Linked DNA regions of Homo sapiens: regions 1 and 3 are each linked to region 2. Evidence: fine-mapped expression QTL. A gene starts in region 2. Each other region holds a variant in brackets. All regions are shown on one strand. Distances are from middle to middle.

What was found. PIP is the estimated chance that this variant, and not a neighbour inherited with it, causes the effect.
Region 1: its variant is fine-mapped to the expression of BRAT1 in whole blood (INTERVAL, PIP above 0.99).
Region 3: its variant is fine-mapped to the expression of BRAT1 in whole blood (INTERVAL, PIP above 0.99).

What each region holds. Positions count from the first base shown.
Region 1 is chr7:2,578,241-2,580,740 of GRCh38, forward strand. IQCE (IQ motif containing E) reads left to right here. Exons shown (of 22, transcript NM_152558.5): 7 at 2-115; 8 at 236-286. Among named protein-coding and RNA genes, the nearest start is that of IQCE, 21 kb to the left of the region's middle. The variant T/C (reference allele first, on the strand shown) is at 1,393.
Region 2 is chr7:2,554,232-2,557,072 of GRCh38, forward strand. It overlaps BRAT1 (BRCA1 associated ATM activator 1), which reads right to left and starts at 1,293. Exons shown (of 14, transcript NM_152743.4): 1 at 1,256-1,293; 2 at 74-216. The coding sequence starts at 200. RefSeq lists a silencer at 1,048-1,287 and an enhancer at 1,200-1,877.
Region 3 is chr7:2,530,861-2,533,701 of GRCh38, forward strand. No RefSeq gene overlaps it. Among named protein-coding and RNA genes, the nearest start is that of MIR4648, 5.2 kb to the left of the region's middle. RefSeq lists enhancers at 1-38, 433-1,405, 2,591-2,841. The variant A/G (reference allele first, on the strand shown) is at 1,437.

The DNA of each region.
Region 1 (2,500 bases), 24 kb after region 2:
GTCATTGCACGTGCAGAAGAGCGACGTGGACCTGATGAGAACGAAGCTCCGGCGCCTGGAGGAGGAAAACAGCAGGAAGGACCGGCAGATAGAGCAGCTCCTGGATCCCAGCCGCGTAAGCTCCTGGCGCTTCACGGACGGGGCAAGGGGAGGGTCCTCGGGGCAGCATCTGCCAGCCAGCCCTGCTGGGGGCTACACCGAAGGCCGTCTTCATGTCTCAATCTGCTTACCACAGGGCACGGATTTTGTTCGGACTCTGGCAGAGAAAAGGCCCGATGCCAGTTGGGTGAGTATGGTGTGTGCAGGACAGAGCCTTTCCCCAGACGCTAGTTACTGGGGACAGCCACAGAGGGACGCCTTTCCCTGCAGCACCCACGCGTGAAGAGCAGCAGGCAGGGGGGAGGCTGCGGACCCCCAAACCCTTCTCCACTGACACCTGGGGACACCACGGGGAGGGGGGCCAGCAGGCTCACCACAGAGGCCAAGCAAGACACTGTAGGAAAAACCCATCACAACGGGCGACTTCCCCCTCACACCTGAGAAAATACATTAAGCTTAACAAGCGCTCCCAGCGCTTTGGGAGGCCGAGGCAGGCAGATCACTTGAGGTCAGGAGTTCGAGACCAGCCTTGCCAACGTTGTGAAACCCTGTCTCTACTAAAAATACAAAAAAGCCGGGTATGGCAGCATGCTCCTGTAGTCCCGGCTACTCAGGAGGCTGAGGCACAAGAATTGCTTGAACCTGTATGGCAGAGGTTGCGGTGAGTTGAGATCGCGCCACTGCACTCCAGCCTGGGTGACCAAAAAAAAAAAAAAAAGGTGCTACAGATGTAAATCAGGGAACCAGGGCAGCAATAACGTCCTTCAGATAGATCCAGACCCCCCTCAGATACTATGTGACAATATGTAAGAAGTTGAATGAAATGGAAGCAGGGAAGATGTTGCGGTTCGGTGGTAATGCTGTGGCGATCAGCTGTAGGTGGCACAGTACACCTCCTAGCAGTCAAGGAAGTACTTCTCTAAAGTGGGACATGGTGGAAGAAAACCGAAAGGGATACGATTTTGAGATTATTGAACGCAAAGAATAAAATAACATTAATGATGTGATTAATGGATTTGATAATGTAAAATTAAAAGTTACATAATAAAAAGCCATGGGACTAAGGTAGCAACCAGATCACTGTAATGGGGGAGGAGAAGGATATTATGGATCAATACAACAAAGTTTTCTGTTTAGAAAATACAAAAAAAACTATAAATCTCTAAAGAAAAAAGGCCGTGTCCTCTGAACTATGTCACAGATATAGAATGTAGAAAGATTGTATAATCATTACATGTTTAAAGTAGATGGTGAAAGCCTAGCTCGGCACCTAGGACGGCACAAAGTAAATCC[T/C]TAACAAATGCCTGTAAGTAGTGGGTACTTTTGTAAAGAAAAGGCTCCATGTTTTTGTTGTTCTGGTGGTGTGTGTGTGTGTGTGTGTGTGTGTGTGTGTGTGTGTCTGTGGGTATTTTTTTTTTTCTTGAGACAGGGACTCACTCTGTTGCCCAGGCTGGCGTGCAGTGGCAGGATCATGGCTCACTGCAGCATTCAGCTCACGTGATCCCTGGCTTAGGGGATACTCCCACCTCAACCTCCTGAGTACCCGGGACTACAGGCACGTGCCACCACAGGCAGCTAATTTTTTTTTAGTTTTGGTAAGATGGGGTCTTGCGAAGTTTCCCAGGCTCATGTGATCCTTCTGCCTTGGCCTCCTAAAGTGTTGGGATTACAGGCCTCAGCCACTGCACCTGGCTGAGGTTAGTTTAAAGTAGGAATTCCAGATCCTAGGGTATATGCAGTATTCATTATCATATGGCAAATTGTCCATCAGTGTGGCTGTGCCCTGTGGCCTGCCGTGTCTACGTGTCATCACCTGCCTTCAAGAAACATTTGCAGATGTGCCTGAGGAGGCCTGGCCAAGGATTTCGATTGGAGGATTGACCAGAATCACAAAAATGGGCTACAACTTAAGTATGTGTCAGTAGGCTACAGTGATAGATTTTAGAGCATAGCCAAAAAAAAAAAAAAAGATTTTAAAAGTGTCTATCTGCCGGGCACAGTTCCTCATGCCTGTAATCCCAGCACTTTGGGAGGCTGAGGCAGGTGGATCACCTGAAGTCAGGAGTTCAAGACCAGCCTGGCCAACATGGTGAAGCCCCATCTGTACTAAAAATACAAAAAAATTAGCCAGGTATGATGGCGCGTGCCTGTAATCCCAGCTACTCAGGAGGCTGAGGCAGAAGGATCACTTGAACTTGGGAGGTGGAGGTTGCAGTGAGCTGAGATCGTGCCACTGCACTCCAGCCTGGGCTACAAGAGTGAAACTCTGTCTCAAAAAAAAAAAAGTGTCTATCAATAGAGGCTGGATAGAGATACTGTGGGAAATAGTGTGGATTCACAGGCGCCAGCAGGGACAGAGCACCAGGAGGATTTGTTGAATGTTAGAATAAAAAAAAAGAAA
Region 2 (2,841 bases):
GGCCCCTGCTCCCTGTCCCAGCCTCTGCGTCTGGTCTCTGGATAGGCAGTAAACAGCAGCACCACCTCCTTACCTCCTTCAGTGACCGTTTTAAACCAGTCCAGGAGCTTCTCCAAACAGGTGTCATCTGCCACCGGCTGCCTGGGATCTACCAGAACAGCACAGAGAGCCGGGAGCAGCTGGGCGCATTCTGGGTCCATGGTGAGGCCGCAGGCCCTGCAAAGGCAATGTGAGAGCCAAACCTCAATGCCCACTCCAGACCCAGCTCGCTCTAGTCACAGCAGCCCACCATGCCTGCTCAGGCCTGGGAAGGGGCCCCAGAACTTTCATCTCAGACCAGGAGAACCATGATCCCCAGACCAGAGGTCTGTACTGCAGGGATGGATGCAAAGCTTTGGTCTAGGTGGGGCCCTGAGCGCTGGTGGCGGGGCTGAAAGGGGCAGATGAGGGTCTAGCTGAAACCACAAGGCCTCCGGAACTCAAAGTCTGTCACCCTTGGTCTTTGGTGCAGTCGGGGCAACAGCGTGGTGCTGGCCCAGGCTGCAGGTGGGCCAGAGTCAGGGGCATCTTTGAGTTCCGGGGTCAGCCATGTGTGCAAGGGGATGTCTACCCATGCCCCAGGGCCAGCCTGGGCTGGAAAGTTTCTGTCCCTCCCAGCGTCAAGTGGTGGCTGCATTTGACGTCCTGAAGCCAGCAGGGGGGTGCGGAGGGGAAGGGGCGCCTGTCCGTGTGTCTGTCCCTCTCAGGGTCAGTGGTGGCTGCATTTGCTGTTCTGCAGCCAGTAGGAGGGTGAGGAGGGGAAGGGGCACCTGTCCGTGTGTCTGTCCCTCCCAGGATTAGTGGTGGCTGCATCTGAAGCCGGCGGGGGGGAGAGGGGGGCGGCGGGGTGCGGAAAGGAAGGGGCGCCTGTCTCTCCCAGGACCAGGTGTGCATCCGTGCGTCCAGCCTCGGGGGTGGGCGGGGTGGTCAGCGGCTCTGTCTAACCGGGGCACCGTCTGCCAATGCCCGGGAAGGCTGCGTCCCGGGAAGAGGAACCCTCCCCACACTTTGAAGTCAGTTTTGGCCGCGAGCGCCAGGCCCGAGAGTCCAGAAGGGGCGCCAGAGCAGGCGGCCACAGTCGGGCTGGGAAGCGAGCCCAGGTCGCGCACGCCCCGGGCTGGGCTGCTCCCTGGCCCGCCCGCCCCCCTCGGCCGGGTCTTGGCCTCCCCGCGCCCCACTACCACGACCTCGACCCCCGAAGGCCCACGCGCCTCACCGCTCGGTTGCGTCCTCCGCCGCAACCACCCCTCGCCCAAGGCTCCGCCTCCGGACAGTGCCACCTGCCAGGCCCGGAGGAGGCGGAGGACGGAGACGGCTGGCGTGGGGAACTGAGACTGCACCCCTGGAGGCCGCTCTGGAAGCCTCGAGGGCCCAGACTTGAAGGAAGGAGTTCAAGCTGAGAGGGGCTGGGGACAGGCAGGCGCCAAGCCGGTCGCTCCGACAGATCACCCCCGCCAGGCGCCTAGTGGTTCATGCCGAGCATCCGGTGGGTGGGCGGGGCGTCTCGAGGGCGGGGATCTCTGAGGAAGGCGCGGGGTTGTGTCCGGAGGGGCGGGGCTTCGCCTGCAGGGCGCCCAGTGTCTGCACCGGCGGGAGCGAGAAAACTATGTGCCGGAGAGAAGCGTCCTGATCCGTGCACCAAAGCCCTTGGTCATTTAGCTTCAGGTTCTCAAATTAAGTCCTCCGCGGCCGCGCTGTGGCTCATGCCTGTAATTCCAGCCCTTTAGGAGGCGCAGTTGGGAGGATTGCTTGAAGCCAGGAGTTGAGACCAGCCTAGGCAACAAAGCGAGACCCCATCTCTTAAAATTTAAAAAAAAAAAAAAAAAAAAAAAAAAAGGCCAGGCGTGGTGGCTCACGCCTGTAATCCCAGCGCTCTGGGAGGCCCAGGCGGGCGGATCACGAGGTCAGGAGTTCGAGACCAGCCTGGCCAACATGGCGAAATCCCGTCTCGTCTCTAATTTTTGTATCTCTAAGATATCAAAATTAGCCGGACGTGGAGGCGCGCGCCTGTAATCCCAAGTACTCGGGAGACTGAGGCAGGAGAATCTCTTGAACCTGGGAGGCGGAAGTTGCAGTGAGCCAAGATGGTGCCACTGCACTCCAGCCTGGGCTACAGGGCGAGACTCCGTCTCAAAAAAAAAAAAAGAAAATCAGCCAGACCTGGTAGCATGCGCCTGTGGTCCCAGCTACTCCAGAGGCTGAGGCGGGAGGATCGCTTGAGCCCAGAAGTTCAAGGCTGCAGTGAGCTATGATCCTGCCCCGGCACTCCAGCCTGGGCAACAGAGCAAGACCCTGTGTTTTAAGAAAGCAAACAGGCAGAAAAACTAGGTCCAAAAAATTGAGTTCAAAACACTAACTGTGTGTTCGAGAGTCTCAAAGCCAGTGGATAGACAAGGCTCATGTTCCCAAAGCATTGTTTTATAGCAAGATTGTTGGGAGCCAACACCAGATTTAGGAAACAAAGCAGAATTCCTATGGATATTAAAATTTAAAAATTTAAAAGCACTGACTTTGCTGGGTCACCTTTATTTTATTTATTTATTTATGGAGACGGAGTGTCACTCTTTTTGCCCAGACTGGAGTGCAATGGCTCAATCTTGACTCACTGCAACCTCCACCTCCTGGGTTCAAGCGATTCTCCTGCCTCAGCCTCCCGAGTAGCTGGGATTACAGGTGCGGGCCACCACGCCCAGCTAATTTTGTATTTTTAGTAGAGACGGGGTTTCACCATGTTGGCCAGGCTGGTCTCGAACTCCTGACTTTAGGTGATCCGCCCACCTAGGCCTCCCAAAGTGCTGGGAC
Region 3 (2,841 bases), 23 kb before region 2:
GGCTTTGTCAAGATGGAGTAGGGAGAGAAGGGGCCTTCCAGGTCTCAGCACAGCCTGGGCAAAGGTGCAGAGGTGGGATCCACTGGGAGGACTGGAAGCCTGGGAAGGAGGGCAGGCAATGCAGTTGGGTCTCTTGATCCCCCCTCCCCAATCACAGACAACTAGGGCTCTCCACAGGCTCAGAGGGGCCAGGGCCAGGCTGCTATGTGACTTCAGCCATTCTTGCCGGGTGGGCCTGGGGTCAGAGGGAAAGCAGGGACCAGGGCCAGATCCATCTTCGAGTCTGTCAGAACAATGGGCAAGTCTTGTTCCCTGCTGGGTCCATGTGCCCACACAGCCTCAGCCTTCTTAGATATTCTGCAGGGTGACCCCCTGCTTCTGAGCCCAGAATTGGACACACAGGAAGGCCCTTGGGGCCAGGCGTGGTGGCTCACAGCCGGGCTGTGCCCTCTGCCTGGAGCCGCAGCCTGGATGCCTCCCACCCCACATTTAGGCTTCAGGCCCCACAGCTGCCTCTTCCCAGAACCCTCCCGGCACGCACTTCGGCGACTCTTACAAGTACCTGTTCAGCGTCAGCCTTCGCCCAGGAGTGCAGGCTGGGGACGAGGGCAGTGGCCACCTCTGCCGGTCCTGTCAGCACCTAGTGCAATGTCCAGCCCACCGTGGGCACTCAACGCAGGCGGCTGTGCTGCCGCAGGTCACAGCACCAATCAGACACCCCCATCCCCACACACACCCTGCACCGGCCCACGCGGCCATCACACTCGGAGCACACGCGCTCCGATGTGGCTGCACTGTTGGCACACGCACAGGCGCGCACGTGGGCGCATACACGCCGGGGCGCCCTGACCTCCCCGCACGCCCTCCCGCAGCCGCCCCGGCCTCTGTCCCCACGCGTGTCACACACGGCTGGGTGTGCTCGCTCACGCCGTCCCGCGACGTTGCTCCAGCCGGTGCCCGGAGCTCGATCGGGAGAGCTGCTGTTGGCCGCCTCTGCCTGCCAGCGTTTGCCAAGCGGTTTCCATGGTGACACATCTTGGCTCCGACAGGAACCAAGGAGTGTGGGGAAGAGGGTCCCCACGGAGGGGGCGAGGCGAGGCAGGAGGTCTCTGCGTCTTCAGGCTCCCGGCAGGCATGGGGGGCTCCACGAGTGCAGACACCCCCCAATCCCAAGCCAGGCTTGCACCCCGAGAAGGAGGCTCTGGGCTGGTCCCTCTGGGCTGCCTGGCACAGGGACTGACTTAGGTCAGTCAGTCATTCAACAAACTTTCTGGAAGAGCCACTCTGTGCTCACAGCCGGGTCTACGATGCTGCCCAAGACGTGGTCTCGCAAGAGGCTCGGAGTCGAATCCTGAGGCTAAACTGACGTCCCGCCACCCTACTGAAGGCCCCATCTAGCAGGTTGGTCCGTGGCTGCGTAAGCACCAAGGCCCACC[A/G]AGCACTTTCTCAAAGGGGGGCTCCCCTCTGTGGTAGATCAGTTACAAACGTGTCCCCGATGCCCCACTCCTCCCTGAATCACCACGCCCTTTGCTGTGTGACTTTGCCCCAACTCCTGTCTAGAGGTGGCGTCTACTTCCCCATCCTTCAATCTGAGCCTGTCTTATGACTTGCTGTGGCCAATAAAAGGTGACAGCAATGACATTCCCAGCTCTGAGCTTAAGCCTCCAGGGACATGCGTGCCTCTGCCTGCTCTCCCCGACTCCTGCTATAGCACGAGAACGGGCTGGGCTGCTTTGCTGGAAGGCAAGAGGGCGATGGAGCCTGGGTCACCCTAGCTGAGGCCATCCTGGACTAGCTAGCTCCCAGCTGCCCACAGATGTGTGAGTGAGCCCAGCTAGGACTTGCCAGGCCTAGCAATGAGCAGCAGTACCACCAGGCCCTTTAATACTAAGGACATGTGAAGTCATGTGTTTGGAGCTATTTGTTACTCAGCACTAGCTACCTGATACCCCTCTCTCTAGGGCCCTGGCCAGCAGCTGCCCAACCTCAGTTAGCACAGGCCAGAGGCTCTAAAAGTTCCCAGGGGTGCTAAGAACCAGGCCATGGTGACAGCTGGATTCCGCTGGCTAACAGTGCCAGAGGGTGCCGGGGACAGAGCTTGTGGGAGGGGGTTCCCATGACAAGTCCATGGCAGGAGCTACTGAAGCAGAAGCACGAGTCTCCACTGCCTTTCTTTGCCTCGGTTTTTCCCCCTGTGAAATGGGCCCATCACCCTGTCCTGTCTCTTGGGGACCCCTGGTAAGGTAGCGTGTGTGGCAGCTGGAAACAGACCTACTACGTGCCAGCCCCGGGTTGCAACCTAGGGAGAGAGGCCCATTGCTGCCTTCTAGGTTCCCACAACTGAGAAGGCAGCGTCACTAATCCCAGCTTACAGACTGGAAACAGTGGGGAGAGGATGAGTGGCTTGCCCGAGGCCCAGGACACACAGGAGCAGGTGGGCATGGCCACAAGCCCCGGCTGGGTCTGAGCTGGTGGTTATCTTCATGTTTTTCTCCCTGTGGTCACCTTTTTGGAAATTTTTTTTTTTTTTTTTTTTTTTTTTTTACATTTGACTATTTTCTTGTTTATTGGTATTTCTTTGGGAGATTTTTTTTTTTTTTTTTTTTTTGAGATGGAGTTTCGTTCTTTTTTTTTTTATTTTTTTTTTTTTTATTGATCATTCTTGGGTGTTTCTCGCAGAGGGGGATTTGGCAGGGTCACAGGACAATAGTGGAGGGAAGGTCAGCAGATAAACAAGTGAACAAAGGTCTCTGGTTTTCCTAGGCAGAGGTCCCTGCGGCCTTCCGCAGTGTTTGTGTCCCTGGGTACTTGAGATTAGGGAGTGGTGATGACTCTTAACGA